2 linked regions of the Homo sapiens genome follow. The protein of the gene in region 1 purifies or fractionates together with the protein of each later gene. This does not show direct contact. Each region holds a gene or a part of one and is shown on either strand. Other genes may lie near its edges.

Evidence for each region.
Region 2: the proteins of OR6N1 (region 1) and B3GALT5 purify together in Homo sapiens (affinity purification with mass spectrometry; one large-scale study listed by BioGRID and IntAct). This does not show direct contact.

Annotation. Positions count from the first base shown.
Region 1 is NC_000001.11:158,769,337-158,773,860, reverse strand, and holds the start of OR6N1 (olfactory receptor 6N1), read left to right. Parts: upstream 1-1,665; 5' UTR 1,666-1,840; intron 1,841-4,524. UniProt on the Homo sapiens protein: Odorant receptor.
Region 2 is NC_000021.9:39,619,199-39,623,021, forward strand, and holds part of B3GALT5 (beta-1,3-galactosyltransferase 5), read left to right. Parts: intron 1-3,823. UniProt on the Homo sapiens protein: Catalyzes the transfer of Gal to GlcNAc-based acceptors with a preference for the core3 O-linked glycan GlcNAc(beta1,3)GalNAc structure. Can use glycolipid LC3Cer as an efficient acceptor.

The sequences.
Region 1 (4,524 bases):
ATATACAAATATATATACACACACAAAAACACACACACATACACACACATAGACATAAATTATTTTGGTAGCCTTGAATTTTCTCAGGCAGGCACTTAAAGAGGTGCTAGGATAGACTATGGCCTTGAGTTCTTAGAAACTATGTTAGTGTTTGTTTAAGTCTTTTAATACATGTGGTGGGGGAGGGAAGATGGGGAGGGTGGATGAAATCATTTTTGCTGACAGTCTATAGATTTTGTAAGCCAAGGCTGAGGTTTAGTCAAAAAGAGAACTAGAGTTCAATGAAATTGAGAATCTTTGTTAGAGGAGTCAGTTGTTAAACATTTACCCCAACACATATAGAGACAGAATATCATTTGGAGGGGAGGGTAGCAGAATTGATGGATATATTTTAGGAATAGAGGATATTCTAGTTCACAGAAAAGAAGTAATTGAAATGAAACTGACAGATGTGGAAAATTTAATTTAAAAGGTAGTGGGTATTTAACTCTTAATTGCCTTATAGGGATTTAGAAAACCTGAATAAACCTCTAGTCATTAAGTAAATAAAATTATTACTTAAACTCTACGTATACTAGTCAAAAAACAAAATAATACTTTGACTCAAAAATTAAGTTATTAGTTAAATATCTATTTACCACAAACAAAATATTAAATACTGGCAACTCAGTTTGAAAAAAAAAAATCTTCCAGAAATAAATTAGGAGATAGAAAAATATAAACTTTGATGAAGAATATTGAAAGTGTGGGTGGGATGGAGAAAGTGACAAAAATTATTTAATTCTTCTCATAGTTCATATTATAGTTTGTAAGTACTTTTTTTTACATTATCACATTTGATTATTAATTTTATCTGAGGAAAGTAAATCTTCCTTATACTTTTTAAATTTTTTATCTGACAAATAATTATATATGTGATGTTTTGATACATGTATGCAGAGTAGAATGATCAAATTAGGCTAATTAACATATTTATCACCTCACATATAGTACTTATCATTTTTATTTTGTGGCAAGAGTATTCAAAATCCACCCTTCTGGCAATATTGCCAACCATGGCTCAGTGAGGTGCCTAATGTCTCATAAGTATTTGGAAGAATGGCTGGGATTGTATCCAAGATTCTGAAGCAGCACTCTTTACGGAGCAGATAACACTAGAGTAGAGAGGAGACTGCAGTGTGTAAGACAACATATAACGGCTATAAATATGAGCAACAGACAAGATTAGGAGTCGGTCTTGATGATATTTATGTCCCCAGTGTCTCCCTGTCCTCACCCTTTCAGGGTCAAAGAAGGTCAGTCAAATTTTATAAAGATCCTATCATAATTGAAAGTTGTATGCTTACTCCCAAGTCATGCAGTACAGGAACCCATTTGAACCTAGTTTTCACACCAGTTATTGTTATTTACTAAAGGAAGTAATTGCCTTGAGACATGTTCTATCTCAACTTGGACTGGTAGTTATTGTTGTAGTAACTAATAGGTAATGAAGGACTACTGGCTAATGAACTTGCTGTATGTCAGTTCCCTTCCTGAGAGAGCACTTTAGTGACCCCAGGAGGTCTGCTCAGAAGGCCCATGGGCTTCTGCCTCTATGAGGTCCCTATCAAGAATCCAGGTTTTATGGGAGAAGAATTTGTTTTATGGTTTAACTTATTCCCACAGGTTCCATCAAAGTGATAAACTTCAACCCCTCCAGGCCCCGGGAATGGCTGGGTATAATACTGCAAATGAGACATAGGAAGTATACAGGAAGTTCTCTTCAAACTTCGGACTCCGAGCAGTGGCTGGGCTTCCAGAGTCAAGCTCTAGCAGAGCACTCCCCACCAACAATCTCTAGGTAAGACTTTATCAAGCAGGCATTTTCATCTTCACATTCCTTCTTAGTCTGATCACTAAGAGACCTAGAGGATTCAGAAATATGGAGAGGTTTTTGAATAATCAGGGTCCATAAAACACATAATTGAAACACAGAAACTATTTTTAAAAACAGATATTCTGCTTTTCAAATGCTATAGTGAAGAGTCTGGCTTCAAAATTAGTAAATTGGCTATATTTTTAACTAACTGTGTAAACTGGAACAAGTCTTCTCCCCTTTCTGGATCCCAGTTTTTGTTGTTTGTTTGTTTGTTTCGTTTTTTAAATGAAGACGTTGAGTGTGATAATCTCTAAAATTGCATCTCCCTTCTTACCCCCAGATCTTTGGCCCTATGCCTAAACAATTATGAACTATGAATAATGCAGCTGTGGTATCTGAAGAAAAGAATGCAAGGCATATATTCTAAAAGCTTTCTAGAATTAGGGGAATAAACTATGATTTCAATGGACCTAAGTAAGATAAATGTAAATTTGTATATGTGGTAGGTTTTATGAGAGCCCTGATTCCAATATCAGGAATAGGAGTAGATGAGTAACTGATGAGCTAAAGAGCTGCACAAGTCATCTCAATTGCCCTCTTTTTCATTACCCACCATAACTCGGATATATCAGGCATTGTGCTAAGTACTCTAGGAGGTAGGACATGGTATGAAGTTTCCTCATTAATTTCAAAAAGCTCACAGAGAGTTGCCTTGGAGTGATAAGACATATGCCTGGAAAATAATTGCAGTGCATTACAGGATATAATTGGAGGGACAGTGAGAAAGTACTACTGAGAATTTAGAAGTGTGAAAGAACAGTATTTAACTTAGATGGTCAGGGAAAAAAATGACAGACTTGAGCTAGAAAATGATTCAAGTGTCTTCAGATTGACAAAAGATAAAGCATATTTTTAGTGAGGGTACACTGCAAACAAAGGAGTCTGGGCTAAATACAGAAACCCACTTGGCAAACATTGAAATTGCTATAATGGTGATGAAAAGAATGTTTGAACACATGACTCTGGACCAGAGCAATAGGGTTGTTTCACAGAGCAAAACAAAGAATAATGGTGAAAGCCAGGTTTCTGGTCATTGGAAAGGACAGTTGTAAACTAAAACATTTCAAAAATGGAGAGAACTGTCTTATGGGTCAGGAAGCTTCCAGTGCTGTAAATCCAGGCAGAGGGTTGATGCCCATTTGTGGCGATATGGATTCCTTTATGAGTGAGAAGATATGAGTTTTTGCTGGGCTGAATCAAAATTAGAAACATAAGTACAAATATGAAGTTTGATACACATGATTTATCCTTCTATTTTAGCCTTCCTTTTTGTGATATTTAAAGGTTTTTTCTTTTTATGAGCTGTTGGAAATATATAATACATTTCAGATATTCCAACAATCCAGTGAAATCCAAAATTATGGGGGCCACTGGAAAGTGATAGTTCCTAAAGCTTCTCTCAACACTAAATTAAGGTTTATCAGTACTAGCAGTTACAATCATAATTAGAAATAATAAAATAAATTTTTTAAAAAGGGAAAATCATCAGTATTTTTTGCCATCTTAAAGGGGGTGTGAAAAAGAGAAGGAAATGGTCCAAACCTCTGAGAACTGTGAACTTGGAAGATGAGGGAGTTGGGGGTGCTAGTTTTCCGTGGAAAATAATAATACTTGATCGGATCCTGATGACTTTGATTGCTTAGGCAGAGTATGGAGGGAGTGAACAACAGCAGGTCATTAATGAGTGATGATACAATGTATAGTGTGATAATAAGTCTTTGGAGTTATGTGGAAACTCTACCTTCTGAGAAAGGAGACGACAAAATACTGGCTTCTCATATTCAATCTTCTGACCAGCCATCCATGTAGATCTGAAAATTTAGTTAAGGGCTCACAGTCTAGACAACTCATCTGTGAGTGGGACTGGAGGCCAGAAAAGGAAAGAGGCAGCTCTAGAATAGAACCTTTTATTTATATTTAGAAGGGAAGGAATATAGAACATCTAGAAAACAAGGGTCTGAGAAGAAGTAGAAATTTAGGGATAATCCTTTATAGAAGGCAGGTATGCATTCAAGACTTGAAGAAAACAGAAGGCAGAATTGGGCAGTGGATAGACATGGATATGCGGTGAGAAAAACTAAGACAAAGAAATTTTGGATAATAAAGTAATTATTCTGAAGCAAAATCACCCATATAAAAGTTTGGCCCGGAAGTAGTTCTCTGGAATCTAAGTAGAGAAACATCCTATATTAAGTCTTGGATTGAGAAAGGCTTTTGTATATGGGATGGACATGCTCCCTAGGTTTAGAAAAATGCCAAGAAAAATCAGAGTAAACAAAGTTAGTTTGGATGAATTTCAGGATCCTGGAGAGGGAAGAAGTGATAAGAAGACCGGAGGGCAGAAGGAGAAGACTCGGTGTCTTTCATAACTCTCTGCCTTTGCACAGGCAGTTCCATTTGCTTCAAATACTTTTTATTTCATTTTTCCATCTAAAAAATTCTGACAGTTTCTTCACTTCAAATAAAAATTATATCTTCTGGCAAAGCATGGTGACTTATGCCTGTAATCCCAGCACTTTTAGAGGCCAAAGCAGGTGGATCACTTGAGCCCAGGAGTTCAAGACCAGCCTGGGCAATATGGCTAAACCCCATCTCTACCAAAAACA
Region 2 (3,823 bases), on another chromosome or scaffold:
CTGGAAGTCTGAGATCAAAGGTGCCAGCCTGATCAGGTTCTGGTGAGGACCCTCTTCAGGGATGCAGATACATCCTAAAGATTCTGTCTGTGTCCTTACATGCAGAAAGAGATTCCTTTCTTCTTATGAGGCCACCAACCCTATTGAATTAGGATCCCACCCTATGACCTCATTTAACCTTAATTACTTCCTCAAAGCTTTGTCTCCAAATACAGTCACATTGGGGTTAGAGCTTTAACACATGAACTTTGGGTGGACACAATTCCGTCCATAGCATTGGTTTATAAATCACAAGTATCTTATTGATGTAATAAGTTTTTATATATACTAGATCAAGTTAGGTCAAGTTTTCCCATCTTGTTTTGCTTTATAATGTATTTAGCTATTTTTTGCCTTTTAGTCTATGTACGAATCTGAGGTTCAGTTGTCAAGTTCATTTCCAAAATTTGTAGGTTTATTTTTGAGATCTCTGTTCTGTTTTGTCATGATGTATTTTGTTTGTTTCTGCCCAAACACCACAAGTTTTAATTGCTGTGACTTTATAATATGTCTTGGTCTGGGAAGGTAAGTTACCACTTTGTTCTTTTCAGCCATTCTTTTTCTTTTCTTTCTTTCTTTTATTTTTTTTAGGCAGAGTCTTGCTCTGTCACCCAGGCTGGAGTGCAGTGGTGTGATTTCGTCTCACTGCAACCTCTGCCTCCCGGGTTCAAGCAATTCTCGTGCCTCAGCCTCCCAAGTAGCTGGGATTACAGGCGTGTGCCACCATGTGTGGCCAATTTTTATATTTTTTGGTAGAGACGGTATTTTTGGTAGAGACAGTATTCACTATGTTGGCCAGGCTGGTCTCGAACCCCTGGCCTCAAGTGATCCTCCTGCTTCAGCCTCCCAGAGTGCTGGGATTACAGGCGTGAGCCTGCCCGGCCATAATATTCCTAATCTTCAGACCTTGTTTGAATTTTTCCAATTTTCCTGTAATGTCCTTTTTCTGGTCCAGGATCCCAGCCAGAATCCCATATTGCATTGGGTTTTCATGTTGCTTTATTCATGTTCAATCTGTAATAGTTCCTCAGTCTTCTCTTTTGTAAACTTGACATCTCAGAAGAGTTCAGGGTAGTTATTTGTAGAGTATTCCTCAATTTGGAGTTGCCTGATATTTTCTTATATGCAGACTGAAGTTATGCATTTTTGGTAATAATACCACGGAAATTTGATAAATGTGATGCATTTTCTATTGGTTCTGATAGTTTACATGTAGAGTCTCTTGGATGTTTTATGTAGATAATTGTATTAGATATTTTGGTTATTTGTGTCTTTCTAGCACATGGGAGGATTTTGCTTCTCCCACCTCTTGAAGTTACGCAAAGCATGTGGCTTTCCCTGGCCAATGAAAAGGGAGCTAAAGGGATGTGTGCTGAGACATTGAATTGCAGGTGCATGATTTCCCAGCTGTCTTTGCTCTGCTTGTTTAAAGCAAATGTTGATATGAGCATACCATTAGATCAAAATAGCATATGATAATAAACCGACCTTTGTATGCTTGCCTTCAAGAGTAGCCTGAATTAGCAATTGATTTTGCTTATGAGAAGATAAACTTGCAGTGTTAAGACCCCGAGATTTTGGGGTTGTTTGTGGCATAACCTAGCCTATGTGGTCTGACATAATAATCATATTGTCTATAAACAAGAATAGCTTAGTTTCTTCTCTTTTATTTCTTATATACATCTTTTCTGGTCTTATTCCATTGGCTGGGACCTCAAGGGCAATGTTTAATAAAAGCAGTGACAGGTTAGGTACAATGGCTCATGCCTGTAGTCCCAACATTTTGGGAGACCAAAGCAGGAGGATTGCTTGAGGCCAGAAGTTCAAGACTAGCCTGGGCAACATAGTGAGACCCTTTCTCTGAGAAAAAAAAGTGATAATGGACATCCTTGTCTTCACCTTCACCTTAATGGGAATGCTTTTAAGTTTCACTATCAAATATGTCTATTTTAGATATTTGATGGACACCCTTTGTCAAATTAAGAAAGATCTCTTTTTTATTATGAATTGGTGCTGAATTTTATTGATTCTTTTTTGATGTAGCTTTTGAAATAATCATAGACTTTTTCTTCCTTTAATTTACTGGTATAATTTATTAGTGCATTTCTTGTGTTTTATTTAGGACCTTTCCATTTGTATTCAAAAGAGATATTGTTCATAATTTTCTTTTCTTTTACTATCCTTGTCTGAAGTTGTGTATTTTTTCTCTGTCTCTTGGAAATGGCTTGCACAAAAAGGTTTTTTTTTTTTGTTGTTCCTTTAAAATTTGGTAAAGCTCACCTCTAAATCTTTCTGGGTTGTTGCATCGTAGAGTGGAGGCAGTGGACTTCTGATGACAGATTCATTGTTTATTTAGGTTCTATTTCCTTTTGTTTATTCAGGTTCTATTCCTTTTCAATGAACTACATTAATTCATGATTTGCTGGAAAATTATTTCAAAGTTTTGAAATTTATTGGCATAAAATTGTTCATAGTATTTTCTTATGATTTAACATTTTAAAAATTTCTCTGTTGCAGACCTTTTTGACTTTAAATATGATTTATTTCTGTCTCTTTTTTTCTTGTTAAATCTTGGTAAAGTTTTATTTGCTTTATTAGTTTTTCTGAAAGAAACAGTTTTTGAGTATGTAGATAATTTCTTTGGTTGTTTTATTCTGTGTATCAATGACTTGATAGTTATATCCTCGTCTTTTTCTTTTTCTCACCTTTCAAATGTTTATTGCTCTTTTTTCGTAGCTTCTTGAAGTATATGCTTAATGTATTCTACATATTTATTCTTTTGACCTATAACTTTATTTCTAAATAATTTTTAATTGCTGTCCACAGGTTTTGATATGTTGGTCTTTCATTTTTATTTGGTTTAAAATATCTATTATGATTTCCTCTTTAAGCCATAAGTTTTTTTGAGGCCTACTTTTGAAAGTTTCAAAACACACATTTTTCTCCAGTATGTTTTTATTGTTGATTTTTAATCCCCATAAGTGGTATGTGTGCAATTGAAAAGAATGTTTACTTTCTGTTTCTGTATGGTTTAATAAATGAAGTTTATTAATTTTCATTGTCAAATCATTATTACTAATTTTTGTTCTATTTGGTTACACGTTTCTAAAAGAAATGTGTAAAAATAAAATTTATTCTTAGAATGCTATCAATTTTTTGTTATATGTTTTGATGCTGTGTTGTTGAAGCTTACAAGTTCTAAAGATCTATATTATACTATCTATATTATAATAATTTATGGTGAATTGCTATGTAGTGTTGATACTTTTGGCTTGAATTCTTTTTGCCTTACATAGCTGCATTAGGGGTTGGTTTCTTTTTCTTTTCTCCCCCTAACTAATAGCAAGTATCTTTCCTGCCTATCGTTGTAGCTTTACTTTGGGTGTGTCATTTGAACTCGCATATAGGTAGATTTTTTCCAACCTGCTTATTGTGTTTCTAAGCAAGTGAACTTAATCCATTTATAATATACATAATTTCTGAGGCCTTTGGATTTAATTCTTTTATCTCATTATGTGTTTTCTTTTTCATACCTTTTTTCTTTAGTTCTCTTTTCTTCATTTTTTCGTCTCCTGTTGGATTGATACAGTTTTCTACATTCCCATTTTACTTCTTTTGCTGGTTTTCAGACTGTAGACTGTATATATATTTTTAATGATTATATTTAATCTTGAATCATGTATTTTAACGATATATAAACATTTTTGGTATTCCTGGTATTTTCTCTATCATGACAAGGACCTCAGCACAATTTAACTAACAACCTTGTTCCCTTATTTTGTAA